4 linked regions of the Homo sapiens genome follow. Each later gene encodes a partner of the first gene's protein in a complex. Each region holds a gene or a part of one and is shown in the gene's direction. Other genes may lie near its edges. The genes, in order: FBXL13, DRC1, DRC7 and DRC12.

What was found.
Region 2: FBXL13 (region 1) and DRC1 share a complex: the UniProt entries of both Homo sapiens proteins name them as parts of the nexin-dynein regulatory complex.
Region 3: FBXL13 (region 1) and DRC7 share a complex: the UniProt entries of both Homo sapiens proteins name them as parts of the nexin-dynein regulatory complex.
Region 4: FBXL13 (region 1) and DRC12 share a complex: the UniProt entries of both Homo sapiens proteins name them as parts of the nexin-dynein regulatory complex.

Annotation. Positions count from the first base shown.
Region 1 is NC_000007.14:102,812,797-102,819,819, reverse strand, and holds part of FBXL13 (F-box and leucine-rich repeat protein 13), read left to right. Parts: intron 1-3,492; coding exon of another isoform or gene 3,493-3,634; exon of another isoform or gene 3,635-4,169; intron 4,170-4,180; coding exon of another isoform or gene 4,181-4,244; exon of another isoform or gene 4,245-5,403; coding exon of another isoform or gene 5,404-5,431; exon of another isoform or gene 5,432-6,288; coding exon 6,289-6,478; 3' UTR 6,479-7,023. UniProt on the Homo sapiens protein: Substrate-recognition component of the SCF (SKP1-CUL1-F-box protein)-type E3 ubiquitin ligase complex.
Region 2 is NC_000002.12:26,446,899-26,453,921, forward strand, and holds part of DRC1 (dynein regulatory complex protein 1), read left to right. Parts: intron 1-1,792; coding exon 1,793-1,905; intron 1,906-3,097; coding exon 3,098-3,187; intron 3,188-3,693; coding exon 3,694-3,783; intron 3,784-6,421; coding exon 6,422-6,651; intron 6,652-7,023. UniProt on the Homo sapiens protein: Component of the nexin-dynein regulatory complex (N-DRC) a key regulator of ciliary/flagellar motility which maintains the alignment and integrity of the distal axoneme and regulates microtubule sliding in motile axonemes.
Region 3 is NC_000016.10:57,704,801-57,711,823, forward strand, and holds part of DRC7 (dynein regulatory complex subunit 7), read left to right. Parts: intron 1-75; coding exon 76-234; intron 235-2,659; coding exon 2,660-2,878; intron 2,879-7,023. UniProt on the Homo sapiens protein: Component of the nexin-dynein regulatory complex (N-DRC) a key regulator of ciliary/flagellar motility which maintains the alignment and integrity of the distal axoneme and regulates microtubule sliding in motile axonemes.
Region 4 is NC_000011.10:119,192,824-119,200,613, reverse strand, and holds the start of DRC12 (dynein regulatory complex protein 12), read left to right. Parts: upstream 1-4,772; 5' UTR 4,773-4,815; intron 4,816-5,114; 5' UTR 5,115-5,126; coding exon 5,127-5,190; intron 5,191-5,619; coding exon 5,620-5,691; intron 5,692-6,728; coding exon 6,729-6,848; intron 6,849-7,370; coding exon 7,371-7,463; intron 7,464-7,790. UniProt on the Homo sapiens protein: Component of the nexin-dynein regulatory complex (N-DRC), a key regulator of ciliary/flagellar motility which maintains the alignment and integrity of the distal axoneme and regulates microtubule sliding in motile axonemes.

The DNA of each region.
Region 1 (7,023 bases):
TGATGATCTCTAATCCCTTACCTATGCTCACTATCTAATCAGGGCCAGTGTGGCTCCCTCAACTGCAGAGGCTTTGATTTGTCTGGGTGAAACAGAACCTTTGGCAGGTGGGATAAGAGAGATTTTTCTGGCTTGGGAAGAAGCTCAATGTCTTTGAATCACAAAGCAATGCTCTCCACATGCTTGATTCCATTTTGAACATGAAAACAATGTATGATGCAGCCCTTAAGGTCCAATTACAGCCGTCAGAAGAGGCTGTTTTATACATAAATTCACTCATACTCAATGGAATCTGAAACTACTGCACCAGCTTTGCAAATCAAAGATGTCTGCTCAGCTCACCCTTTCTGAACCAGAGGAGTAGCAAACTTTTGGTCAATGAGCAAATTGGCTGTAGCCCTTTTGCAGGAGAGTTTCCTGCAGAAGATATGGCTGGCATTCTACCAACCCCAGAGTCTGAAGGGTTTCCAGGAAGTGACCCCAGAAGCACCGTGTGGATGCAAGATAAAGGCTCCTTTATTTCAAGGAGGAATAAGTAACAACTATGATCAGAAAACGACAAGCTATTTGTATTTGAAGCAGCTGTGACAGCCAGCCATTCAACTTATGGCCCTCTGTGGGGAAAGGCAACAAGGTAGGAGTGAGAGAGAGGAAGAAAGACCCTCACAATGGCCCCCACAACCCAGGAGGGCCTGAACCACAGAGAACCTGAAGAATCACTAATTGTATAGTTAGCGAAAAGGCTAATCCAAGAACAGAAAACCAAATAACGCATGTTCTCACTTATAAGTGGGAGCTAAATGATGACAACACATGGACAGATGGATGGGAACAACACACACTGGGGCCTGTCAGAGGGTGGAGGGTGGGAGGAGGGAGAGAATCAGGAAGAATAACTAATAGATACTGGGCTTAATACCTGGGTGATGGAATGATCTGTGCAGCAAAACACCATGGCACACGTTTACCTATGTCACAAACCTGTACATCTTGTACATGTACTCCTGAACCTAAAATAAAAGTTGGAAATAAATTTTTTAAAAAAATAAAGGGAACTTTTGATATATTTCTATCTGGAGCCCAAAACCTTCAATTCTAGAGAACTAGTAGAGAAAGTCTTAGTGGCCTTCAGAGCCCCAAATCACAGTATGAAATTCCTGGAAGGCCTTCTTTAGCAGTTGCTAGAAGCTTAAACTCGGACAGTCCCTACTGCTCAGGCATTCTAGGAGATCTGTGTTGATAAAAAATAAAACTCTTATCAGAGTTCTCCTCTCTAGCTCATGGAAAGGTTCAAGCCTTTCTGATGTGGAGCTGTTGACTTTTATTATCAGTATGAACAAATAATGTTATTTAACAATTATTATTTGCCACGTACTGTGCTAAATCCTATTTTACAGATATTGCCTCACAAATACACTTTATCATCAAAATGGATAAGGAAACTGGTTTAAACAGGTTAAATAATGTGCCCACAGCCACACAAATAAGGAGAGCCATACTTTGTACCTAGGTCTTAATCATACTGTGCTGCTCTTCGCCTTTATATTACATTCTCAAGCTTTTAAAAAGCTCTGACATTCAAGGGATGTGGTCAGTAAGGGTAGACACGTGCTCTGTTTTGCCTAATTTATGTCTGATGCACAATAAGAGAGGCTGTGGATTATGAGCAGTCCTTGGTGGTGGCTCCAACATTCCCTTTTTTTGCCTACTCAAGAGATTAGAAGGAAATGTGAGCTAAGGCACACAGTGTTACTACAGGGCTAACCCTGAATCCCTTTTAATTTATAAGAAACAAAAATCACTAACAAACTTCAGTACAGTGTTATTATTAACCATCTAATGTGAAATGTTACAACTATGACATATCATGTTTGAAAATCACTGTTCTATACTGATCCAAAGAAACCTCTCACCAGGATAAATGAGTAACCATTGCAGCAGATTGGTTCAATTCCCAAATCATTTCATACGGGGTCTCACAGTCACTTAGGCCAAAGCAGAATGGAATGCAGTCAAAGAATTCCATATGTGCTCTATGGAATTTAGAACACACAGTGGTTCCTAAGAATACATGTTTTTTTCAATATTTCCTAGCTCCCATGTGCTGATCACACTACAGCATCAAGCTATTAAGAGAGAAAGGGGAGGGGCAGGAGAGAGAGAGAGGTTTCTCCCAGAAATATAGTTTCTACATTTTTAACTTTCCTGATACGATTCAAAATACATGTGTAAGAGCTTCTGCACAGCAAAAGAAACTATCAACAGAGTAAAGATAATGGGAGAAAAATATTATCAAATTATGCATCCGACAAAGGTCTAATATCCAGAATCTAGAACTTAAACAAATCAACAAGCAAAAACCAAATAAGCCCATTAAAAAGTGGGCAAAAACATGAACGGACACCTCTCAAAAGAAGACATACAAGTGGCCAACAAAAATATGAAAAAATGCTCAACATCACTAATCATCAGAGAAATGCAAAATTACCATCACAATGAAGTATCATCTCGCACCAATCAGAATGGCTATTATTAAAAAGTCAAAAAATAAAAGATGCTGGTGAGGATGTGGAAAAAAGGGAATGCTTTTACACTGTGGTGGGAATGTAAATTAGGTCAGCCAAAATAGAAAGCAGTATAAAAACTTCTCAAAGAACTAAAATAGAATTACCATTTCATCCAGTAATCCCACTACTGGGTATCTACCCAAAGGAAAAGAAATAATTCTATCAAAAAGACACCTGCAGTTGTATGTTTATTGCAGCATCATTCACAATAGCAAAGTCATGGGATCAACCTAAGTGCCTGTCAGTGGTGGATTGGATAAAGAAAATGTGGTACATTCAGACCATGGGATGCTACACAGTCATAAAAAATAATGAAATCATGTCCTTTGCAGCAACATGGATGCGGCTGGAGGCCATTATCCTAAGTGAATTAACAGAGAAACAGAAAACCAAATACTGCATGTTCTCACTTAAAAGTAGGAGCTAACCACTTGGACATAAAGATGGAAACAATAAACACTGGGAACTCCAAATGTGGGGAGGCAGGGAGGATGGCGAGGGTTAACAAAGTACCTACTGGGCATTATGTTCACTATTTGGCTGATGGGTTCAATAGCAGCCCAAACCCCAGCATTATGTAATATACCCACATAACAAACCTGCACGTGTACACCCTGAATCTAAATTTTTTTTTAAAGGTGCGTGTGTGCAAACACACAGCTACATAGGATGCTATGATAAAGAACTCAGAAAAACCTTCTGGCAGCCACTTGCCGATCTCTTCTCTTGGCAAGGTCCTGGGTCTTAGGTTAGTCAGTCCGTGTGAGGATGCCAAAGGTGGTGAGGACAGCTAGTCACGGCTAAGGATTTTCTGAAGGGCAGGAAAGAAGTGGAATAGGGAATAGTCTATACTAGTATCCATAGCTCTCTAAAAATAATCCTAGATTTGCTCCAGGACAGATTCATATTTTCTGTTTTTCCCTAGGACCACCCTTGCTGTGAAAGCACTTCAGACTAAAACAGGCCCTAAAGACATACCAGGTGGAGGAAGCCTTAACCTCCCAGAACTTGAGTCTGGAAGGAGAGTGGGTCTGAGATCTGATCCTTTGCTCCCCTCCAGTCAGTAAGCATCACTTCCAATAGTCAGGGACCCACTGATGTTTGGTTTCACTAAAGCTGTCTGTGGGTGGACTGGAGAGCAGAGCTAGGGTAAGGGGGACAGGGACTAAGGAATGAGGACATTAAAGAAATGCATATACCAGTGGGCACTTCACCCATGGCTGGGGTTCAACATGCAGCTCATTTCGATTCTGTCCCATCACACTGCATTAAATGAGTAGTCTCCCTGTTCACTCACTGTTTTCCTTATCTTATATTAAGGAGTCAGCATTCTCACTTTCCTTTTTCTTGTTATTTTCTCAAACCCCCACTACTTGCTAATTGTTTTATGTCACAATTACCATCTAATTTACCCTGGCTTGTAGCTGACTGAGCAACCATAGGACTCAATATTTACACTTTCCCAGACTTATCATTAGTAGTACTTATCCTCTTACCAGTTATCTAGAGCCGTCAAAACTGTTGCTCTTCTGACATTAAGGTAAGATGTAACTTGGTGAATGAGGATTTGCAAATCTTTTACTCCCTAAAACAAGCATTTCCTTTTCCTATAGGTCAAGATCATTGTTGCCTCTAACTGTGCTACTCTTGTACTACAGTCAACATCAGTGGCATTGAATGATTATGAACAACTGTGAACTGCAGTGTGTGTCCAGAACTCTGGTGTTTGGGAGGCAGGGGGCAGGAGGGTGTTGGAAATAGGAACATAAGAATGCCCCTTCTAGACCAGCAATCCAGCAGAAGCCAAGAGGGTTAAAGGACTTCCCTTCTTGGTGTAAGCTGCTGAAATCTCTCGTTTGAGCTATTCATGATGAGTTTCAGGGAGATGCAAAGAAATGTAATAAACTCTTAAGTAACTTACTACCTTCTTAAACAAAAGGAAAATAACAAAGTTTAAAATTATAAATAATTAATGCCCTGAAGCTATGTAATAGAAAGAAATTAATTCTATGATCAACTTCCTGTAGATGTTTAGAGGAGGAGAAGACTGGGTTTGAGCCATTTCCAAGGAGGCTGGATTGGTTTGGAGTTTTGAAAAATGGATAATGTTTAGACTGATAGAGATGGGTGAAGGGTAATGATGGAGCCTTGCTGTTTGTTACATGAAACTGATGGTGCTAATGTTATATGCCTCAACATTTGGTATTATATTTCAGTAAGTCTTAAGGGGAAAAATGTTCAGAAAATGTGTTGAAAGATATGATAATCTCACCTTTATAGAATTGAAAAGGGAGAAATATCATTAGGAGAATAATGTGGGAAAAGCAAAAGATATAAACCCACTACTTTTGCATAGTAATGTTCTACTTTGAGGATATGTAAAGATTATATAAGAGGTTTAAAATGCAGGCTAGCACCTTAAAAAAAGATTTAAAAAATTAACAGAATGCAAAACATTATCTTTGACAATAAACTTACCATTTTCAAAACTGAGAATAAATATTTCTCTGAAGAGAATAAACTTGTTTGCCAAGTTTTAGTCCATAGGGATTGGTGGCTCCAAACTAGGAATTAGTATATGATAATTGCTTTTACTCAATTTGTTCTTTAAGTTTGTAGAAGTTTTGTGTGAGAGCCAATAATAAGCTAAAAAGCAATGTGCTTAGAGGCAGAATTAGGAATGCTTTGGTTACCTCCCTGTTAAGTTTGGTTACAATTATTTTAATACATCTAAAGTTTGATTTAACTGAAATAGCATTTTAAACTGTTATCTCTATGTTGTTGGTTTTTTTTCTTCCTATTTCATTGCCTTACCTGAACTCATATGGCCATTCAGCACAAACTTAACTCGAAGTGTATGGTAATGCCAGCTCCATATCAATGACTCAGTTTCCAGACTTTTGCAATTAATAACTCAAGGTAACATACGGCAAGAGTGGGGAAGGTAGTGCCTTCATGGGTAAACATCATAGTTACTCATTTCTAATCGTACAGAAGTGGTCAATTACTCATCTCCTCTTTAGTACTAATCTCGTGATTCAAACCAACTTTCTAGGAAAGGAAATTCTTCCTTCTGTCCTCAAAATGGCTTTGTTTTCAAGTTAGACCTACTTTTTTTCTGATGCATTCTTTACTTTCTTGTTTCCTGCTAAGAAAGACTATAACAGTATTTTTTAATACTGTGTTATAGTGTTGTGACACCTTTGAGTCACAAACCTTCTCATAAAAATGTGTATTATAGACAAAACTGCATGAACTTTCAGGGAGTTCATGGACCTCCCTGAAGTTCATCCATGTAGTCAAAAGGGATCTGTGAACTCTGGGTTAAGAGCTCCTGGCCTGGTGCATGGTCAGCCTTCACAGGTAGGCTGGTTAGGTTACTCCCTCATCAGAGAAACTAGAAATACCAAGGAAGGGGCTTACTTAAAGCAGTATAAATAAATAGAGGCCTCAGTGTTCCTCTTCCATGGCCATGTGTAGTTTCCTTACCCATTCACTGTATCTGTTAATTTCTGAACTGGCTGAATCAGAGTTACTGAGGCTTTGGGACCCTGTTTATTTGTACACTTACCCATATCCTCACTCTCAGCAAGGCAAGAGAGGTCTCATGTGAATTCAGATTGTGACAGTGAATTCCCTAACTCCAAATTTGGTTGAGTTTGAAAATTTTGCACTAGGGGTTACTTCTGCAACTAGCTAATGCTAAGCACTGTTATTACAGGAAGGCAGCTCAAAGAATGTCATCTAAAGTTCAGCAGCAGGAATACAACACTAATGACCCTCCACGTTGGTTTGGCTATGATAGGGAAGGAAACCCTGTTACAGAGCTTGACAACATAACATCATCTAAAGGAGCCTTAGAATTAACAGTGAAAAAGTCAACATACAGCAGTGAAGACCAAGCAGCGTGACCTTCAGCCTCAAGCAGGAAGAACAAAAAATCAAGAACTTGGCAAGTTTTCTCCATTTGTTGCAAGTATGTTTACTAGCTGAATCTCAATAACAATGTAAACAAGCAACAAACCATCTTCTGATTCTTATTCCAACTACAAATATTTCCAAACACATCAGTAGTTCTTCTGTCTAAATAATCATGATTTAAAAAAGAAGCCAGGCCAGGAGCGGTGGCTCACACCTGTAATCCTAGCACTTTGGTAGGCCAAGGCGGGTGGACCATAAGTCAGGAGTTCAAGACCAGCCTGGCCAACATGGTGAAACCCCATCTTTACTAAAAATACAAAAATTAGCCGGGTGTGGTGGTGGGCGCCTGTAATCCCAGCTACTCAGGAGGCTGAGGCAGGGGACTTGCTTGAACCTGAGAGGCGGAGGTTGCAGTGAGCCTAGATCACGTCACTGCATTCCAGCCTCGGCGACAGAGCAAGACTCCGTCTCAAAAAAAAAAAAAAAAAAAAGAAGCCAAATCAAGTACTGACTACACAAAATTTCTGCCTAAATT
Region 2 (7,023 bases), on another chromosome or scaffold:
CTGGCCAACATGGCGAAAACCTGTCTCTACTAAAAATACAAAAAATTAGCCGGTCATGGCGTGCGCCTGTAATCCCAGCTACTCAGGAGGCTGAGGCAGGAGAATCGCTTGAACCCGGGAGGTGGAGGTTGTAGTGAGCCAAGATTGCACCACTGCACTCCAGGATGAGCAACAGAGTGAGCCTCTTTCTCAAAAAAATAAAAAATAATAAAAATTAAAAAAAAAATAAAAATAGGCCGGGTGCGGTGGCTCATGCCTGTCATCCCAGCACTTTGGGAGGCCAAGATGGGCGGATCATGAGGTCAGGAGTTTGAGACCAGCCTGACCAACATGGTGAAACCCTGTCTCTACTAAAAATACAAAAATTAGCCGGGCATGGTGGCGCGCGGCTGTAATTCCAGCTACTCAGGAGGCTGAGGCAGGAGAATCACTTGAACCCGGGAGGTGGAGGTTGCAGTCAGCCGAGATTATGCCACTGCACTGCAGCCTGGGTGACAGAGCGAGACTCTGTCTCAATAAATAAACAAATAAATAAAAATAAATGCACTTGGAATAGTTTCTGTGTGGTTATATCACCAGCTTGATACACATATAGGTATTTTTGTTTCGTTTTGCTTTTGATTATTAGGGAATGGTTTTTTACAATTTAATTATGTTTTTTGTTCGTTTGTTTTATTTTTGTCTTTTTGAGACAGTCTCACTCTGTTGCCCAGGCTGGAGTGCAGTGGTGCAGTCTTGGCTCACTGCAACCTCCACCTCCTGGGTTCAAGCGATTCTCCTGCCTCAGCCTCCTGAGTAGCTGGGATTACAGGTGCGTGCCACCATGCCCAGCTAATTTTTGTATTTTTAGTAGAGACGGGGTTTTGCCATGTTGGCCAGGCTGGTCTCAAACTCCTGACCTCAAGTGATCCACCTGCCTCAGCCTCCCAAAGTGCTGGGATTACAGGCATGAGCCACCACGCCTGGCCTAAGAAGTTAATTTTAATTAAGAAAATTTTTGGCTCTTGCTGTCAGCTGTCAGTTCTTGCTGTTAATATTTCTCTGGACCAGGCGCCGTGGCTCATGCCTGTAATCTCAGCACTTTGGGAGGCCGAGGCAGGCAGATCACTTGAGTTCAGGAGTTCGAGACCAGCCTGGCCAATGTGGCAAAACCCCATCTCTACGAAAAACACAGAAATTAGCCAGGTGTCGCGGTGGGTGTCTGTAATCCCAGCTACTTGGGAGGCTGAGGGAGGAGAATCACTTGAACCCAGGAGGCGGAGGTTGCAGTGAGCTGAGATCACACCACTGCACTCCAGCCTGGGTGACAGAGCAAGACTCCATCTCAAAAAAAAAAAAAAAAAATTATCTGTGAATGTGCAAAGCCACCTGCCCCTGCTTTGAGTTGGCTGCTTCTGTCTAATCTGTTGCAGGTTTAGAGACTATATAGCCACTTGCTAGATCATCTCTGAAATAAGAATAAATGGGCTCACACTCTCCCTCCCACTTCCTGGTTCATGGCTGGATTTTGAGTATGATGTTTCCAGGTAGACGCAATTTGGAAAAGTAGGGCATTACAGGCTGGCTGGGAATGGCCGAGTTCTCCAGGTAGTCTCTGATTCCGACCCCCTAGCCCGCCTTCCCGCCACGTAATAGGCTTTTTTCATCATAAAGAGACTGAGAGAATGCCTCACAGAGGCTTTTTAAGAGGTACATTTTCTCAAGGAAAGCCATCTGACTGTTTCTCAGAGTCAACTAGCTCCAGAAATTATCTTCTTTTTCTTTCTCTCTCCTCCCCATGACCCAACTGCAGAAGAGGAGGAGGCAGAAGAGGCCGCCGCGGAACCAGAGTCCTACCTGGATTTGCCGAAGCAAATTTCTGAAAAAACTACCAAGAGGATCCTGATGCTCCTGTGTGACGAGTCGGTGAGGCCAGGCGGGGGCTGCAGCAGAGGGACTCACGGGGGTGTGCAGGTTCTGAGGCCTCTGCTGGGCCAGTGCTAGCCTGGAGTCAGGAGTGGGCCAGTCCTCCCCTGGCCAAGCCCAGGGTTGGGCCCTGAGGAGCAGAGTCAGGATGGCCCCTGGACTTCAGGGCCGGTTCATAGAGGCCTTGCCTCTGAGCTGGCCCAGCTGGAAAATGGGTCTAACCTTGGTTGGCCAGCATGGCATAGTTTAGGCCAGCTGGAGGGCTCCTGCCAGCTTAAAATGATGCTGCTTCTGAGACAGAAGTTGCACCAGCTCACCTCCATGAACCAACTTGCTAAGTGATGTGGCCACACTGACATGGCCCTTCTCAGGGGCTTGTTTTGGGGGTGACTCTGGCTATGTTGGGATTTGGATGTCTGCATTGTATGTTAGCAAACATGATTAGCCTTAGAATAAAAGCTGCATTGAGCTGGTTCAGCTGGAGGTTGGGTTGTGGTCAAACATGGGCAGTGTTTGTTTGGATCTTACGGTTCTGAAGTGGGTATTCTTTTAGGATAGTGAGGGCAGTTGCCTTTGGCTGGCTCTTGCCACTGAGGGCAGCTGCTGCTGAAGGGGTCAGGTGGCAGGTTCTGCCCTCTGAACCTGCAGCTGGATGCAGAGGCCACCTCCCCATGGAGCTCTCCCCCAGGCATCCCAGCTCAGAGCGGGCACCGCATCTGCTCAGCCGCCCTCTCCCTTCCACCGCATGTGTGCTGTGTTTTGGTTTGGGGTGCCCACTGCTTTCCATGCCTCCCTGTCCTGCTGCTGTGTTCTGTAGATATTTGGGGACAAGACTATGGGTGAAGCAGGAGCCTGTGACTGGGTCAGCTTTGGACTGTGGTGGGGGCCTCAGGAGTTTGCCTAGTGGCTTGTGGGTGAGGTGGGTTGGTGCCCTTCTGGGTGGGAAAAGCTAAGTCTGTGGTGAGGATGGGCTTTGTCCCTGGCCTTGCTTGTCTCTGGCCTTGCTCCCTGGGGAGGGGGGCGTTCATGGGCACCCCAAGAAGGCTTTGCTGGGGCCCACTGCTGGCTCCCATCCCTGGGCGTCTGCTCCGTGGCATGGTCCCTGGAGTGTTACACAGGGGGCAGCTGCAGACCCTGGGACTCGCTCCTGAAACCTGTCCCCGACAGGAGATGCCTTCTTCCTTCTCCCCAGGGGTTCCTCATAGAGAGCAAGCTGCTGAGCCTTCTCCTGCCCCTGGAGCAGAATGAATGCTATCTGCTGAGGCTGGATGCCATCTTCTCCGTGAGTCCAACGGGGCTGGGAGGACACGGGTGGGGCTGCAGCCGGCCGTGTTCTCAGATGGCCCTGCCATTGCCTCAACCCTGGCAGTGGACGAGGGTCTCCCGGGGCTTCCCCTGCTCCCTGTCACATCCTTCCCTTAACCTACTCTCCACACAACACATTGGTCTCAGACTCACTGCAGTGTCTCCCACCCCTGCCTCTTCCTCTACTAGCATCTTCCTCTCAGGTTGTAGGTTCTCCCTGACACCCCCAAACTCAAATCTGGTGCAGCCCCACTAGGCATCCTCACAGCCATGGGATCCATATGGAGCAGCTCCTGGCTCTATGAGCATTGTTTCCGTGTGTTCTGATGTGTGTGTCCCCAAGTTCACAGTCGCTTCCCAGCGTTGGATGAATGCCCTCCACAAGCCAAGCCTCCCGCTCTTAGGAGCTGAGCATCTGTCAGCTGCCCAAGCCCGTGGCCTCTTGATGGGGTGTTTGAGCAACCATCCTGTTTTTCGCCCCAGGCCCTTGGAATTGAAAGTGAGGATGACTTGTATAAACTGGTGAACTTCTTCCTTAAATATCGAGCTCACCGTTTATCTTCCAGCCTCCAGGTAAGGCAAGGTGCAGAGAGAAGAAAGCATTTTCTTTCTTTCTTATTTATTTATTTATTTTATTATACTTTAAGTTCTGGGTTACATGTGCAGAACATGCAGGTTTGTTACATAGGTATACATGTGCTCTGGTGGTTTGCTGCACCCATCAACCCATCACCTACATTAGGTATTTCTCCTAATGTTATCCCTCCCCTAGCCCCCACCCCCCGACAGGCCCCGGTGTGTTATGTTTCCCTCCCTGTGTCCATGTGTTCTCATTGTTCAACTCCCATTTATGAGTGAGAACATGCGGTGTTTGGTTTTCTGATCTTGTGATCGTTTGCTGGGAATGATGGTTTCCAGCTTCATCCATGTCCCTGCATTTTCAATTGTCCCGAAGCCCCCAGAGCACAGTGCTGTCTTTGAGTAGCACTTCTGGAGAAATAGCGGGGCTTTTATGTCAGGTATAGCTAACTTAGCATTTCCCTTATTGTTTATCAATTTGTCTCTTTGTAAAGGGAAGAATGGCTTGGGGGTGAGATGCTGTTCTTATACTGAGGCCCAAGCAATCTTTTCCTGCACCCTCCCTCAAAACCAGGTCTCAGCCACTGTGAGACCAGAGCCCACCAGGTTCTGAATATTTTGATCCTTAACACTTTCCCGCAAGGCAAGGCCCATTTGTCCTACATATCTTGATTGTAATTGATTTCAGAAGGTGAATCAAATATTAACTATTTTAAAGAAGATGCCATATTAAAAGTCATATAACATTTTAATTTAAAAATGAAAAATGTGAATGAAAAATGTTTTTAGTACTGCTAGCCCAAAGCTGAGTATCCTGACATGCCTGTAAAAAGAGTTGGCTGGGCTAGGCACAGTGGCTCATGCCTATAGTTCCAGCTACTTGGGAGGCTCAGTTTAGCCCAGAAGGTTGAGGCTGCAGTGAGCCATGATGAGGTTGAGGCTGCAGTGAGCCATGATTTCACCACTGCATTTCAGCCTGGGTGACAGAGTGTGAGACACTGTCTCTAAGGGAAAAAAAAGAGAAAAGAAAAAAAGAGCTGGCAGAAATGGACAAAACCACAAAGCCATAAAGGGAATAAAAGCTATATTTGACTACAGAATTTAAAAACAATTCTGTAGTGCAAAAATCATGATAAGCAAAGTTAAGAGATGAATGACAAGCTGCAGAGAAATATTTTCAACTCATATCATAGTTAAGGCATTTCCTTAATATATAAAGAGCTCTCTGAAATCAATAAGAAAAAGACCAACAAAAGGAACAGATAACAAATATGAATGAACAACTCCTAGAAGAGGCAATACAGGTAACTCTTAAACATATGAAAAGACAATCAGCCTTCCTTGTAATAAGAGAAATGCAAATTAAAATGGCTGATTTCCATTTTGCCAACCTGTTATGTTGGCGCAAAAAAAAAAAAAGCTTGATAACACAGCAAGTATAACATAGCGATGACTGAGGTGTAGAAAACAGGCACACTCATAAGTTACTGGTAGGAGTATAAATTGTAACCTCCATTGAGGACAGTTTGGCAGTATCAATTACAAAACTATATACATTTTACTCTGAAATTCTTCTTCTTTTTTTTGAGACAGAGTCTCACTCTGTTGCCCAGGCTGGAGTGCAGTGGCACGATCTCGGCTCACTACAACCTCCATCTCCCAGGTTCAAGCCATTCTCCTGCCTCAGCCTCCTGAGTAGCTGGGATTGATTACAGGCACCTGCCACCACGCCCGGCTAATTTTTGTATTTTTAGTAGAGATGTGGTTTCACCATGTTGGCCAGGCTGCTCTCGAACTCCTGACCTCAAATGATCTGCCCACCTTGGCCTCTGAAATTCTTCTTCTAGGATTTTATTCTCTAAATATATCTCATTACAGTTGAAATGGTGTATTTATTGTAGCTGATTCACTGTACATTGTTTGAAATGGCAGAAGATTCGAAACAACCTATATGTCCATTGTTGAGGAATCTATTTAATAATATATGGTATGTCTACACGATGGGGTACTATAAAACTGTGGGAAAAAACCAAAGTTCTTTATGTATTCACATGAAAAGGTACCTAAGGTTTATTGGTAAGTGTAAAAGCAAACTACAGAACTCTATTTGTAGTATAGTATCATTGATGTCAAAACGAGAAGGAGGAGTATATATGGAAAGGTATGCGCATGTATTTATATATAAACATTATATAGACATACTATTTCCTTGGAAGGAACCATAGGAAACTTGATAGCATTCGTTTGCCTGTGGGAGGTCAATTGCATGAACTGCAAAATAGGAGTAGGAGGAAGACCTTTTAAATTTAACAATTAAAGCAAAAATTTAATCTGTATTATGATTCAAAAGAAGATTTCTAACATGTAAGCTTTATGAATGTCAGTAAGGTGAGCACCTAGGAGCCCGGATTTAGAAACAGAACCTTTCCATTTTCTCGTAGCCTCCTAGTGCCTCTCCCCATCCCATCCCCCTTCTTCCCACTCTTTCTCCTGTTTCTGTCCCTGTGTAAATGTCTCCCTGGGCAAGCTGTCACTTTCTGTAAACTTTTCTGGTTTTTCTTCTTCCTGCCTCTCTCTCCATGCTCATGCTCGTGTGTCCCCAGCCCACAGTTGTCCGTGCATCTTTCTCCAGATCAAGCCCTGCAGTCAGGCGAGCATGGAGAAGGCGAGCATGGAGGAGACAAGCACGAGGTCAGAATTGGAGCTGGCAGAGCAGACGGAGATGGAGGGAGAAAAGGAAGAAAGCCTGGTGGAAGGGGAGAAGGAGGAAGAGGAGGAGACCCCACCCTCCCCCTGGGTCATCCACCCCAATGATGTCCTCAAGATTCTGGAGGCCTTCGTCATGGGTCTGAAGAAGCCTAGGTGGGCTGCGGGGCTGGAAGGCTTGCCTGAGACCAGAACCAGGGGAGCTGGATGGGCTGGGGAGCCAGGCAGAGCCAGTGAGTGGAGAAGAGTCTGCTGGGCAAGATGCGGGGACTAAGGACAGGGCTATCTGAAGGCGGGCTGGGGCAACCAATCGCTGGACAGTCAGGAAAGCAATAGGGCATAGTGGTGATCTGTGCTTTTTTCACTCATCATTCATTCAGCAGACATGCACTGAAGGCTGCCATGTGTAAGCACTGTGGGGGCACTGCCTTGTGATCAGAGTAATGGTCAAAGCACATTCAAGGTGCACCATTGTTCAGAGGAGGAAGTGGCCGTTTCCATTTGGCATGTCAGAGGGTTTTGGGAGGA
Region 3 (7,023 bases), on another chromosome or scaffold:
GTCTCACCTCTTGGAGTTGCACATGTAAAGGGGGGATGCAGGGCCACTGACCCTTCCTCTTCTTTTGGGTGACAGACCATCAAGAAGGAGGAAAAGGTGCTGCCTAAGAAGTATACCATCAAACCCCCCAGGGACCTGTGCAGCAGGTTTGAGCAGGAGCAAGAGGTGAAGAAGCAGCAGGAGATCAGAGCCCAGGAGAAGAAGCGGCTGAGGGAGGAGGAGGAGCGCCTCATGGTGGGTCCTCAGCCCTGAATCCCCTGGGCTCAGCTATCGAGAAAGGACTGCTAGGGATGGGAAAAGAGGCATAGGTCATGGAGGGGATGTGTGTATGGACCCCCCAACTAGGTCCACCTCACAATCACCCCCAACCTCTACCTGGCCCTGCAGGAATCTCCCACTGGTGGTCAGCCAGCTTCTCATGATGGACTCCTAACATCAGGGCACTGTACTGCCTGGGGCAGCCCATTCTATGCTAGGCAGCTCTGGTGTCCTCTTTGCTCTAGACTCTTACTGGGGATATACCTGCATACACCCTCCCATCCATTCATCCTCCCATCTCTCCTCCCATCCATCCTCCCATCTCCCCTCCCATCCATCCTCCCATTCGCCAATCCATCCATCCATCCATCCTCCCATCCATCCTCTGATCTCTCCTCCCATTCATCCTCCCATCTGTCCATCTCCCATCCATCCATCCTCCTACCCAACCTTCCATCCATCCATCCTCCCATCCACCCATCCTCCCATCCATCTGTCCTCCCACCCACCTCCCATCCATCCATCCTCCCAACCATCCATTCTCCCATCTCTCCTCCCATCCATCCTTCCATCCATCCATCCTCCCACCCATCCTCCCATCCATCCATCTTCCCATCCATCCATCCATCCTCCCATTTATCCTCCCATCCATCATCCTCCCATCCATCCATCCTCCCATCCACCCTCTGATCTCTCCTCCCATCCATCCTCCCATCCATCCATCCTCCCATCCATCCATCCTCCCATTTCTCCTCCCATCCATCCTCCCATCCATCCATCCTCCCATCTATCCACCCTCCTACCCACTTATTCTCCCATCCATCCATCATCCCACTCATCCTCCCATCCATCCATCCATTCTCCCATCCATCCTCTCATCCATCCATCCTCCCATCCATCCTTCCATCCATCCATCCTCCCACCATCCTCCCATCCATCCATCCTCCCACCATCCTCCCATCCATCCATCCTCCCATCCACCCATCCTCCCATCCATCCATCCTCCCATTTTGCCTCCCATCCATCCATCCTCCCATCCATCCATCCTCTCATCCATGCTTCCATCCATCCATTCTCCCATCTTCCCATCCACCCATCTTCCCATCCACCCATCCTCCCATCCTCTCATCCATCTATCCTCCCATCCACCCATCCTCCCATCCATCCATCCTCCCACCCACCCTCCCATCCGTCCATCCTCCCAACTATCCATCCTCCCATCCATTCTCCCATCCATCCTCCCACCATCCTCTGATCCAGCCATCCTTCCTTCCATTTCTCCTCCAACCCATCCTCCCATCTGTCCATCCTCCCATCCATCCACCCTCCTACCCACTGTTCTCCCATCCATCCATTGTCCCACTCATCCTCCCATCCATCCATCCTCCCATTTCTCCTCCCATCCATCCATCCTCCCATCCATCCGTCCTCTCATCCATGCTTCCATCCATCCATCCTCCCACCCTCCCATCCACCCATCCACCCATCCTCCCATCCTCCCATCCATCCATCCTCCCATCCACCCATCCTCCCATCCGTCCATCCTCCCACCCACCCCCCCATCCGTCCATCCTCCCATCCATTCTCCCATCCATCCTCTCACCATCCTCCGATCCATCCATCCTTCCTTCCATTTCTCCTCCAACCCATCCTCCCATCCGTCCATCCTCCCATCCATCCACCCTCCTACCCACTGTTCTCCCATCCATCCATTGTCTCACTCATCCTCCCATCCATCCATCCTCCCATCCACCCATCCTCCCATCCATCCATCCTCCCATCCACCCATCCTCCCATCCATCCATCCTCCCCTCTCTCCTCCCATGCATCCTCCTATCCATTTTTCCTGCCATCAGTCCTCTCATCCATCCTGCCAGCCATCCTCCTACCCATCTCCCATCTCTTCTTCCAACTCCACACTCCTATCCTTCCTCCAATCCTCTTTCCCCACTCCCTTCTTTCCTTTCCTTCCATAGAGTATTCCTTGAGCTTCTTTTCTGGTCCAGACCTATTTATACATAACAATGAACAACAAGACAGTCACAGTTCTCTCAGAGGGAGGCAGATAAGAAAGGTACTTGGTCTCCCATTTCCTTTCTGTGGATGAAACCTCACCCAAAGTCATAACATATAAAGCCGGTAACCCCCAGATGCCCAGTGCCCCAAAGAGTCCGATTTGTAAACCACAGATCTAGTCAGACTCTCCCATTGTTTTGATTTTACAAATGGGCTCAGTGGTTGGGTGATGGGAGGGGAGATGGGCCGTCACACTCCGGTTGATGGTGCAGTCTACATCAGAACTCAGCTCTCCTGCTGGTTCCCCAGCCCCAGGGAGATGTCTGGGCCCCTGACACTCCTCTTCCAGCCATCTGACTCGTAGTCACCCACCTTTCCTTGGCAGGAAGCGGAGAAGGCAAAGCCGGATGCCCTGCACGGCCTGCGGGTGCACTCCTGGGTCCTTGTGCTATCGGGGAAGCGCGAGGTGCCTGAGAACTTCTTCATCGACCCATTCACAGGACATAGCTACAGCACCCAGGATGAGCACTTCCTGGGCATCGAAAGCCTGTGGAACCACAAGAACTACTGGATCAACATGCAGGATTGCTGGAACTGCTGCAAGGTGCCTAGGGAGGGGGAGCTGGGTGGGTGTGGCAGGCACAGTGCAGGTGATAGGAATAGAGGGAAGCAATGGCAGCCAGACCTTGGGGAGAGCGAGACACCAGGCCACGAGGGCTTTGAACCTTCTCCATAGCTGCGTCTCCATGGCCCACTCCCTTGCCCATGAATAACCATTCTGATACGATTATTGTCTCTCCTGATTTGTGTATCCTTCTAAAGTGTGGATTGTTTGAATGCATTTTTTAAAAACTCTATATTGAAGTGTAACCTACATGCAGAAAAGTACACTCATCCCATGCATACATACAGTTCAGTGAAATCCCACAAATTTAACACACCTTGGTTTCCTACACCCAGACCAAGAAATAGAATATTGCCCAAACCCCACAAAGTCCCTTTGCACAATTACTATCTTCCTCCAAATGTATTTTTAACTCACGTATGTGGCACTGGTACACACACGCGCCTACAAGAGGGTACAGAGGAGGTCACAATCCTAAGTGTACATACCATTGAATTATCACACACTGAACACACCTGTGTAGCCAGGACCATTAGAAGCCCCCTCATGTCTCCTCCTGGCCACCAACCCTACCATCGTCCCCAGAGTTAAGCACTATCTTGACTTCTAACGACATCCATTAGTTTCATCTGTTTTTGGAGTTTACATCAGTTGAATCACACAGTGATTCAATACTCTTACTCTTGGATTCCTTCACTCATTATGTTTATGAAATTCATTGTGGTTTTTTGTGTGGTTTGTTCATTTTCATTTTTTATTACTTTCCATTATTTGAATACACCAGAACTTATTTGTCCTTTCTACAGTTGCACATTGAGACTGTGTCCAGTTTGGGACTATTTTGAATAATGCCGCCATGAATATTTGTATACATATATTTCAGTGAACACATACACACATTTCTGTTGGGTAACTACTGAGGGGTGGAATCGCTGAGTCACAGGGTGGGCACATACTCAGTTTTAGTAGATACTGCCCGATTTCTCAAGTGATTGCATCCATTTACACTCCCACCAGCAATGTATGAGGGTTCTCAGAGCTCCATCCACATCCTTGCCAATACTGGATACTTTCTTTTCCATTTTAGCTATTGTAGTGGACATGTAATGGTATTGCACTGTGGTTTTATTTAATGCAATTGATTTTTGGCTGAGTGTGGGGGCTCACACCTGTAATCCCAGCACTTTGGGAGGCTGAGGAGGGTGGATCATTTGAAGTCAGGAATTCAAGACCAGCCTGGCCAACATGGTGAAACCCCGTCTCTACTAAAAATACAAAAAATAGCCAAGTGTGGTGGTGGGCACCTGTAATCCCAGCTACTTGGGAGGCTGAGGCAGAAGAATTGCTTGAATCTGGGAGGCGGAGGTTGTAGTGAGCCTATATTGCGTCACTGCACTCCAGCCTGGGCGACAAAGCAAGACTCTGTCTCAAAAAAAAAAAAAAAAAGCAATTGCTTTTTGCAAACTGTTCACATATCCAGTAAGTTTTAAACCTGCTTATTCATTTTAAAAATTAATCTGTAAAGACTTTGGGGTTTTCTGCATATACAATCAGTTCTATAGCTGAATGATGGCCGTTTTGTTTCTTCATTTTTAATCCTTATACTTTTTCATTTCTTTTTCTTGTTTTATTTCTCTGGTTAGTACATCCAGTATAATGTCAAATTGAAGTGGGGATTCTGAACATCCTTGTCTCAGTCCTGATTCACAAGTAACGCCTTAGTATCATAACATTTCACTATTTGTGTGATGTTTATCTTGACTGTAGGGTTTTTATAGCTAGCTACCCTTTATTTAACTAAGGGATTTCTTTCTCAGTTCACTAGCAGGTTTTTTTTTAATCAAACAAAATTTGTTTATATCAAATGTTTTTTTCATCTATTAAATGATCATAATTTTTTCTTCTATTAAGTGGTAAATTAGACTGATTGTGTTCCCCCCTTTTTAAAATTGAGGTGTAATTGACATAACATAAATCCACTAAAGTGCACAAGTTAGTGGCTTTTAGTATATTTACAAGATTGTGCAACTATCACCACTATCTAATTCCAGAATTTTTTCATCACCCCAAAAGAAGATTTTTATTTTTGAGACAGGGTCTTCCTTTGTTGACCAGGCTGGAGTGCAGTGATGCAATCACGGCTCACTGCAACCTCTGGACTCAAGCAATTCTTCCACCTCAGCCTCCCGAGTAGCTGGGACTACAGACTGCAGGCATGTGCCACTATGCCCAGCTAATTTTTGTATTTTTTATAGAGACAAAAAATGGGTTTTGCAATGTTGCCCAGGTTGGTCTCAAGCAAGCCACCCACCTTGGCCTCCAAAAGTGCTGGGATTACAGGCTTGAACCACTGTCCCGGGCCCCAAAAAGAAGATTGTGGTTGAGATTATACTGGATCCATAGATCAATTGAGAGAGAACCGTTTTCTTAACAATATTGAATTTTTCACCCATGAACCATGGTATCTCTCTTCAGTTATTTAAGTCTTTTAAAATTTCTATCAGCAACATTTTGTAGGTTTCAGTGTACAGTTCTTGCACATCTTTTGTCAGATTTATTCCTAAATATTTCGCTTTTTGATGCTATGATTTTTTTAAATTTCACCTTCTGACTATTCTTTGTTAGTGAATAGAAATGCAGTTGATTTTTACATATTGATCTTCTATCCTGAAATCTTCCCAAATTCACTTATTTGCCCTAATAGCCTTTGCGTGGATTCCATCAATGTTTATACAGATAATTATGTTATCTGTGAATAAAAACAGTTTTACTTCTTTTCCCATCTGGATGCTTTTCTTCCCTTATCACACTGGCTGGAATCATCAGTAAATGTTAAACAGAAGTGATGAAAGCAAACCTGTTTATTCCTGATCTTACGGAGAGCATTTAGTCTGATACCATTAAGTATAGTATTAGCCACAGGTTTCTCTTATTGGTTCCCATTATCAAATAAAGGAAGTTTTTCTCCAGTCCTAGTTTGCTGAGAGTTTTTTCAGAAATAGATGCTAGATTTTTGTCAAATACTTTTTCTGAGTCTATTGAGATTATTATGATTTTTCTTTTTTAGTTTATCTACATGGTAAGTTACTTGGATTGATTTTGAATGTTAGACTAACCATGGTTTTCCTGGGATAAACCTCATTTCATTGTGATGGTTAAATCTTTTATATATTATTGGTGTTGAACTGAAAATTTTGCTTAGAATTTCTGTATCTTTGTTGAAGAGAGATATTGTTCTGTAGTTTTCTTAGAATATATTTGCCAGGTTTTGGTATCACAGTAATGCTGGCCTCATGGAATGAGTTGGGAAGTTTCCCTTTTCTTCAGTTTTCTGGATGAGTTTCTGTAGAATTGGCATGATTTCCTTTGTACGTTTGCTGGACTTCACAAGTGAAGCCATCTGGGGCTGGAATTTTCTTTGTGGAAGGATTTTAAGGTACAAATTCAATAGGAAGACTCAAGCTGTTTTTGAGTGAGGTTTGGTGTTTGTATCTTTCAAGAAATTTGTCCATTTCATTTGTTTTCAAATTTATTGTTATGAAAGTGTTCAAAATAGCTCCTTATTTTCCTTCTAATATGTTAAAGTCTTTAGTGACATTACCCCATTCATTCTTAATATTGGTAGTTTGTGTGTTCTCTCTTTTGCTCCTGATCAATCTGGTTAGAGGTTTATCAATTTTGTTGCTCTTGATGCAGGGGCAGGCCCCAAAATCAGGGCTTTGCCAGTGAGGATTCGTGGCTTTTTCCAGGAAAGAATTCAAGGGCAAGCTGGTGGTGTTAGAGGCAACTTTACTTGAAGTGGCAGCGTACGGCAGCAGCAGATGGACTGCTCCTTGTGGAGCAGGGCTACCCCATAGGCAGTGTGCCCAGATTGTAACCACCCAAGGGGTTCACCTTGCCAGCTGCCTAGACAGAGCTGATTCAAGACTGGGGAATTGCAATAGAGAAAGAGTAATTCACGCAGAGCAGGCTGTGTAGGAGACCAGAGTTTTGTTATTACTCAAATCAGTCTCCCAGAGCATTCGTGCATTCAGGGAGCAGAGTTTTTAGGGACAACTTGGTGGGTTGGGGGATGCCAGGGAACCAGGAGTGCTGATTGGTCAGAGATGAAATCACAGAAAGTC
Region 4 (7,790 bases), on another chromosome or scaffold:
GTGCGTCTGTAGTCCCACCATGCTGAGGTGGGAGGATCACCTGAGCCAAGGAGATTGAGGCTGCAGTAAGCCGAGATCGCGCCACTGCACTCCAGCCTGGGCCACAGAGCGAGACTCTGTCTCAAAAAGAAAAAAAAGAAAGAAAGAAAAACCTCCCAAACAGGCTTCTAGATGAGGAGGACAGGGACAGGTACCCCCACTGCATTACAGCACAGGAGAAGGAGGTGGTGGAGGGAGAATAAATGAAAAACATGCTCAAGATTAGAAGAAGCTGGTCTGATGGTACTGGGTTATCAGAACTTATTAACATTAGTGTCATGTCAAAGAAAAGAGTCAAACTCTGTAAAATATTTGAAGAGATTTATTCTGAGCCAAATATGAGTGACCAATGGCCCGTGACACAACTCTCAAGACATCCTGAGAACAAGTGCCGAAGGTGAACAAGCTACAATTTGGCTTTATACATTTTTTTTTCAGACGGAATTTCACTCTTGTTGCCCAGGCTGGAGTGCAATGGCGCGATCTCGGCTCACTGCAACCTCCGCCTCCCGGGTTCAAGAGATTCTACTGCCTCAGCCTTCCAAGTAGCTGGGATTATGGGCGCCCACCACAATGCTTGGCTAATTTTTTGCATTTTTAGTAGAGACAGGGTTTCACCATGTTGGCTAGGCTGGTCTTGAACTCCTGACCTCAGGTGATCCACCTGCCTTGGCCTCCCAAAGTGCTGGGATGACAGGCGTGAGCCACTGCACCGGCTTGCTTTATATATAAATTTTAAGAAAACATAAGACATCAATCAATATATGTAAGATGTACATTGGTTCAGTCTAGAAAGGCAGGACAACTGGAAGCGAAGAAGCGGGCAAGAGAATTAGGGTTAGAGTTAGGGTTCCAGGTCATACGTGGATTCAAAGATTTTCCAATTGACAATTGCTTGAAAGAGTTATTATCTAAAGACCTGGAATCAATAGAAAGGAATGTCTGGGTTACAATAAGGGGTTGCAGAGACCAAGGGTTTTTTGTTTTTGTTTTTGTTTTTTTGACAGAGTTTTGCTCTTGTTGCCCAGGCTGGAGTGCAGTGGCGCAATCTCGGCTCACCACAACCTCCACCTCCCGGGTTCAAGCGATTCTCCTGCCTCAGCCTCCAAAGTAGCTGGGATTACAGGCACCCGCCTCCACACCCGGCTAATTTTTTGTATTTTTAGTAGAGACAGGGTTTCGCCACGTTGGGCAGGCTGGTCTCAAACTCCTGACCTCAGGTGAATCCACCTGCCTTGGCCTCCCAAAGTGTTGGGATTACAGGAGTGAGCCACCGTGCCCGGCAAGAGACCAAGGTTTTATCATGTAGATGAAGCGTCCAGGTAGCAGGCCTCAGAGAGAATTGATTGTAAATGTTTTTTCTTCTTATCTTTTCTCTTTTTATTTTTTGAGACAGGGTGCCACTGCATTTCCCAGACTGGAGTGCAGTCACGTGATCATGGCTCACTGCAACCTCAACCTTCCCAGGCTCAGGTGATCCTCCCACCTCCGCCTCCCAAGTAGCTGGGACTACATATGCACACCACCAAACTGGGCTAACTTTTGTATTTTTTGTGTAGATGGGGTTTCACCACATTGCCCAGGCTGGTCTCAACCTTCTGGCCTCAAATGATCTGCCCGCCTCAGCCTCCCAAAGTGCTGAAATTACAGGCATGAGCCACCAGGCCTGTAAATGTTTCTTATCAGATTTAAAGAGTGTGTTCTATCAGTAATTCTAAAAGGGAGGAGGGTATGTTGAGGCATGTCCGGCTCCCCCTTCCCATCACGGCCTGAACTAGTTCTTCAGGTTCACTTTGGAAAGCCCTTGGCCTAGAGGAGGGGTCCACTCAGATGGCTGGCAGGCTTAGAATTTTATTTTTGGTTTATAGTCACTAAAGTTGGTATACAGGCGCCCACTACTAAATTCCACTGGCTTCAAAAATAAATAAATAAAAGATTAGAAGAAAAATATCCTCCAGATTTGGGAGATGTCCACAAGATTAGTTGACTCTGAGTTACAGGAGCTGGAAGCACTTGGGAAGTCAAGACTGGCTCTTCTCTTTGCTCTGTAAAATGCCCGGAAGTTCATGTAAGTGCCGTGCAGCCACCAAGGTGACAAGCATGAACCAGCCTCTGCCTAAAGTTACCCACTACCCAGAAGAAGGACTTTTCAATTCCAGATCTTGTGGCTTTTTTTTTTTTTTTTGAGATGGAGTCTTGCTCTGCTGCCCAGGCTGAAGTGCAGTGGCGCAATCTCTGTTTACTGCAACCTCCTCCTCCTGGGTTCAAGCGATTCTGCTGCCTCAGCCTCCCCAGTAGCTGGGATTATAGGCACGTGCCACCATGCCCAGCTAATTTTTGTATTTTTTAGTAGAGACAGGGTTTAATAATGTTGGCCAGGCTGGTCTCGAACTCCTGACCTCATGATCTGCCTGCCTCAGCCTCCCAAAGTGCTGGGATTACAGACGTGAGTCACCGCGCCCAGCCTCTTGTGGCTATTTCTACAGATCTGCTCCTGACAATAGGCAATGGACCAAAAATATTGAGGGTGACAGAGATGAAGAGAAGTACCTAAAGAAGGCCGGGCACAGTGGCTCGCGCCTGTAATCCCAGCACTTTGGGAGGCTAAGGCGGGTGGATCACGAGGTCAGGAGTTCAAGACCAGCCTGGCCAAGATGGTGAACCCCCATCTCTACTAAAAATACAAAAATTAGCCAGGCGTGGTGGTGGGCACCTGTATTCCCAGCTACTTGGGAGGCTGAGGCAGAGAATTGCTTGAACCTGGGAGGTGGAGGTTGCAGTGAGCCGAGATCACGTCACTGTACTCCAGCCTGGGCAACAAGAGCGAGACTCTGTCTGAAGAAAAAAAAAAAAAAAGATAGGCTGGTGCAGTGGCTCACGCCTGTAATCCAAGAACCTTGGGAGGCCAAGGCAGGTGGATCGCTTGAGGCCAGGAGTTTGAGACCATGCTGGACAACATGGTAAAACCCCATCTCTACAAAAAATACAAAAATTGGCCAGGTGTGGTGGCATGCGCCTGTAGTCCCAGCTACTCAGGAAGTTGAGGTGGGAAGATCACCAGAGCCCAGGGAGACTGAGGCTGTAGTGAGCCGTGATCATGCCACCGCACTCCAGCCTAGGTGACAGAGAGAGACACGGGAAAAAAAAAAAGAAACCTAAAGAAAAGAAAGGGTCTGCAGGTCCCCTAATCCAAAAGGAGAAAAGTCCTGAAGTTTTTGCTATTTTCACTCTAACCAGTATGGTGCCCAGAGATCCAAGTGGCAGATAAATGGCAAGCCTCCAGGATAGCACAGAGCTGGAGGGAAAGTGAGGGCTGCCTGACAAGGGAGGGCCACCCATCATACTCTCTCCCCAATGTTAATTCTTCCAGCCACTCCTGGCTCAAACAGGACGCTAAGAAGTATCCCCAAAGGGAGTCACCCCCACTGTTGCCCAGTAAATAATTTAAAAGCAAAAATGTAGGAAACTCAGGAGAAGGTCAAACAAGTCCACTAGAGGGAGCCCCAACCAACTCTATGCTACAGGGAGCCTCACAAAGCAATGTCTCAACACCTGTCTGAAAATCAACCACACAAGGGAATGGGGAAATGTAGCAATAGATTAAGTCACTAGGAGAGAAGATAGCCATGTAAACACGCAGCTAAAACACAGGCTTTTCAAGAGCTGCAAAATCAAACAATTAAAGATCAGGAAACTGATGCTGAGCAAAGTCAAATGGCTCGCCTCAGTTTACATATCCACAGTTGGGACTCAAACTCACATGTCTTGTCTCTAACCTGAGCTCTTTCCTCCACACTTGCATCCCTCTAGGTCAGTACCCTAGAGTCCATGGGTCCACTATTCCTCTGCGTCTCATTTCTCTGAAGTGGGAAACTCCCTGGACTACCTATTCCTGCACTTATTACCCTCATTCTACAGTGTACTGAAGAGGATCTTCGGTGGTCTGGGAGTTTTGTTTGTTTGAGACAGGGTCTCCCTCTGTCATCCAGGCTGGAGTGCAGTGGTGCAATCATAGCTCACTGCTGCCTCAACCTCCCAGGCTCAAGTGATTCTCCTGCTTCAGCCTCCCAAGTAGCTGAGACTACAGGTGTGCACCACCACACCAGGCTAATTTTTTAATTTTTTTGTAGAAATGAGGTCTCACTGTGTTGTCCAGGCTGGTCTCGAACTCCTGGCCTCAAGTAATCCTCCTGCCTCAGCTTCTCAAAATGCTGGGATTATAGGCACGAGCCACCGCCCCAGCTTAGATCTTCAGTTTTAAGCCTACTAATGTCATTTTGCTGGTGGGACCTCGGGATGTCAGTTGTCCAACATGGCTACTGTCAGTCCTTTTCCTCTGTATCAGCACCACATATTATCTCAGATGTGTACATCTGAATTTGGAAGTCTCCAAATTGCAGGCCATGTCTACATGGCAATGAATCATAACTAATCGACCTCCAAAGCCCTTTCTTTTCAAACTATACTTAGGATTTTGGGATAAGGAAAGAACTGACCCTTTGAGACCTTGATATTTTAAACTTTGTGAGCTGATTTAGCCCATTCCACCTTCCTGTGAACTCCATGTTTCCCAGTTGCCTGGACAACATACAGCCTCTGGAAACCCAACCTTCCAGCCCTCAGTCCTGCCCTCAAGAGAAATTTGCCACCAAGGATTGGCTCCCAGGACCCAGGCCCCGCCTCAGGCTCCTCGCTAGTTGGGCCTTCTCTCTGCCACTCCCCACGAGTGGGTCACTCCACGGGGAGCCCCAACGCTGGCAGGAGAGGATCCTACAGGTAGGAAGTGAGGGTTGAGGATGATGGGAAGAGGGAGGGGAGCAGGTACAGGGATTTCGTTTCTCTAAAAGAGAGTTGCAAGGAATGACTTCTGTACAGAGTCAGCCTGGTTGAGAGAAAAAACTCCATCCTCCCCACTGACCCCAACCCTGTCTGAGGTTCCAAAGAGACTGTGAACTGACTTTTCTGAAGGATATGAGAGACAAATTTGGACTCAGGAGAGTCTCCTGGTTCAGTCTAAAGCTCAGGAAAGCATCCCTGTGTCCAGACCTAAACATAAGGTCCCCTCCTTCTCCCAGGACAGCAAGGAGATGCCACCTAAAAACAAAGAAAAAGGGAAGAAATCTGGGGCACAGAAGAAGAAAAAGAACTGGGGTGAGTCATGGTGGGTGGAGGTGCCCCCTGCTTCTCCATGTTCTGCCATGAAGACCACGCAGAGCTCCTCCAGAGAGAATTCAGCCTTCTGCAGGACAGGATGGAGCTCTCTTGACCTACCTCTTTCATGTCCTCACAGCCAGATCCAGGGAGCTGAGGAAGTGGGGAAATGGTCACCCACGCTCTCCTTTAAGCCCCATCTAGCTCTGTGCCTTCCTAATATATTTGTCATGTGTATTTTGCATATCTGTTATGTGCTGGTCGGTGAGGACACGGTGCTGACTTCAGTAGACTCTGCCACTGTGGATACCTCATTTAGTGGTCCTCAGGTCTGCTGTGGCAAAAGTGCAGGGTGTGGGGTGAGGATGTGAGCAGAGTGAGGAATGCTGAGATCATGAAGAGCTGAGGCTCTGCCACTTGCCACCGCAGGTGCAGATGTGGTGGCCGAGTCCAGGCACAGGCTGGTGGTGCTGGAGAAGGAGCTGCTCCGAGACCACTTGGGTAAGGAGGGTAGAAGCTGGCATGGGTGGGCAACAGGGGAAGTGAAATGGGGCATTTCTGTATCCTGGGGGATTGGAGAGTTGGAGGTATGGTGGGGGGTTAAGTTGACCCTAACCATCCCCTAGTGGAAAAAGATGATGAGAGAGGGTGGGCAGTGAGAGTTGATAAAGGAAGGTGTTTTTTTTGTTTGTTTGTTTTTTGTTTTTTTTGGTTTTTTTGACAGAATTTTGCTCTATTGCCCGGGCTGGAGTGCAGTGGTATGGTCATAGTCCACTGTAATCTCTAACTCCTGGGCCGCAACAATCTTCCCGCCTCAGCCTCCCGAGTAGCTGGTATTACAGGTGCACACCACCATGCCTGGCTACTTTATTTATTTATTTTTTTTTTTTTTTTTTTTTTTTTTTTTTGAGACAGAGTCTTGTGCTCTGTCGCCCAGGCTGGAGTGCAGTGGTGTGATCTCGGCTCACTGCAACCTCTGCCTCCCAGGTTCAAGCGATTCTCCTGCCTCAGCCTCCCGAGTAGCTGGGATTACAGGCACGTGGCCACCACACCTGGCTAATTTTTGTATTCTTAGTAGAGACGGGTTTTCACCATGTTGGCCAGGCTGGTCTCGAACTCTTGACCTTGTGTCCCACCAGCCTTGGCCTCCCGAAGTGCTGGGATTACAGGCGTGAGCCACCGCGCCTGGCCCTATTTATTTTATAGAGACAAGGTCTCACTCTGTTGCCCAGGCAGGTCTCAAACTCCTGGCCTCAAGCAATTCTCCCACCTAAGCCTCCCAAAATATTGGGATTACAGGCATGAGCCACCATGCCAGGCTATCCGAAAAGAACATAGAGGGAGTTTTTACTTCTTAATAATGAGGAGCCTGTGAGACTCTAGGGATAAAAAACAAAAACAACAAAACCCAGAGAGAGAGTAAGAGGCTGGACACCCCACCACCAGATTTCTAGAGGTGGGCAAAGTCCATCACGTTCATGGGGGCTGATTTAGTGGGACCCAGCCAGTCCTGACGGCGGCTCTGGGACTGCTCACAGCTCTACGGAGGGATGAAGCCCGTCGAGCCAAGGCTTCCGAAGACCAGCTGAGGCAGAGGCTGCAAGGGGTGGAGGCTGAGCTGGAAGGGGCCCGAAGTGAAGGGAAGGCCATATATGCAGGTGTGTGGTCGGTTAAGCAGGTGGGCAGGAGACAGGGGCTTGGAGGAGGACAACCAACAGGGTCAGTTGATGCAAGGAAGGGAAACAAGGAGGGCTTCCGACTGCCAGGCCTGGTCTTGGTCTTTCCCAAACAGTACAAATCAGGAAGGATCCTGCAGGAACCAAAGGCAGGTAGGTTCCTGGGATCCCAGGCAGGGGCCTTCCAGGATGCCTGGTGCCATGTGCTTGATGCTGTGTAGGATACACATGCAGTCATAGCCATCATCTCAATCAGCCCATGGGCGGGGAGAAGGGCTAGCATCCCCATCCAAAGCTGGACTGGGGGAGGTAGGTCGGGCTTCCTGTCCCTTCCTCAGGTTTTCATGGTCTGCAGCTTCTCAGAATCACAAAAAGAACCAAGAAGGCCTTTGTGCTCCTGTTCCACTAGACCAAGTAGAGTCTTCCCCACCCACAACTTCATTTCCTTTCTCCATCCCTCCATCTCCAACCTGGGTCCCTGGTGGCCCACTGCCCCCACCCCAGAGATGAGTCGCCAGTGCCATGCCCTGCAGGAGGATATGCAAACCCGCAGCAAGCAGCTGGAGGAAGAAGTCAAAGGCCTTCGGGGGCAGCTAGGTAGGTTTCCCCACCCTCCAAGCCCCTTCTCTCCAAGAGTTGCAGCAAGGGCCAGCATGAAGGGGTAGACTTCAAAGTCTCTGCTCCAGAAAGCTGCCGTCTGGGCTCTTGGATCACTTTCCCCACTTTCGCTGACCCTCCACCACTGAGGACTGCAGCAGAGGGTTCGGGATACCAAAAATCTCTGCTGTAAGTAAAGAAGAGGCTCCAGGCGCGGTGGCTCAGGCCTGTAATCCCAGCACTTTGGGAGGCCAAGGCGGGCGGATCACCTGAGGTCAGGAGTCCAGGAACAGCCTGGCCAAATGGCAAAACCCCGTCTCTACTAAA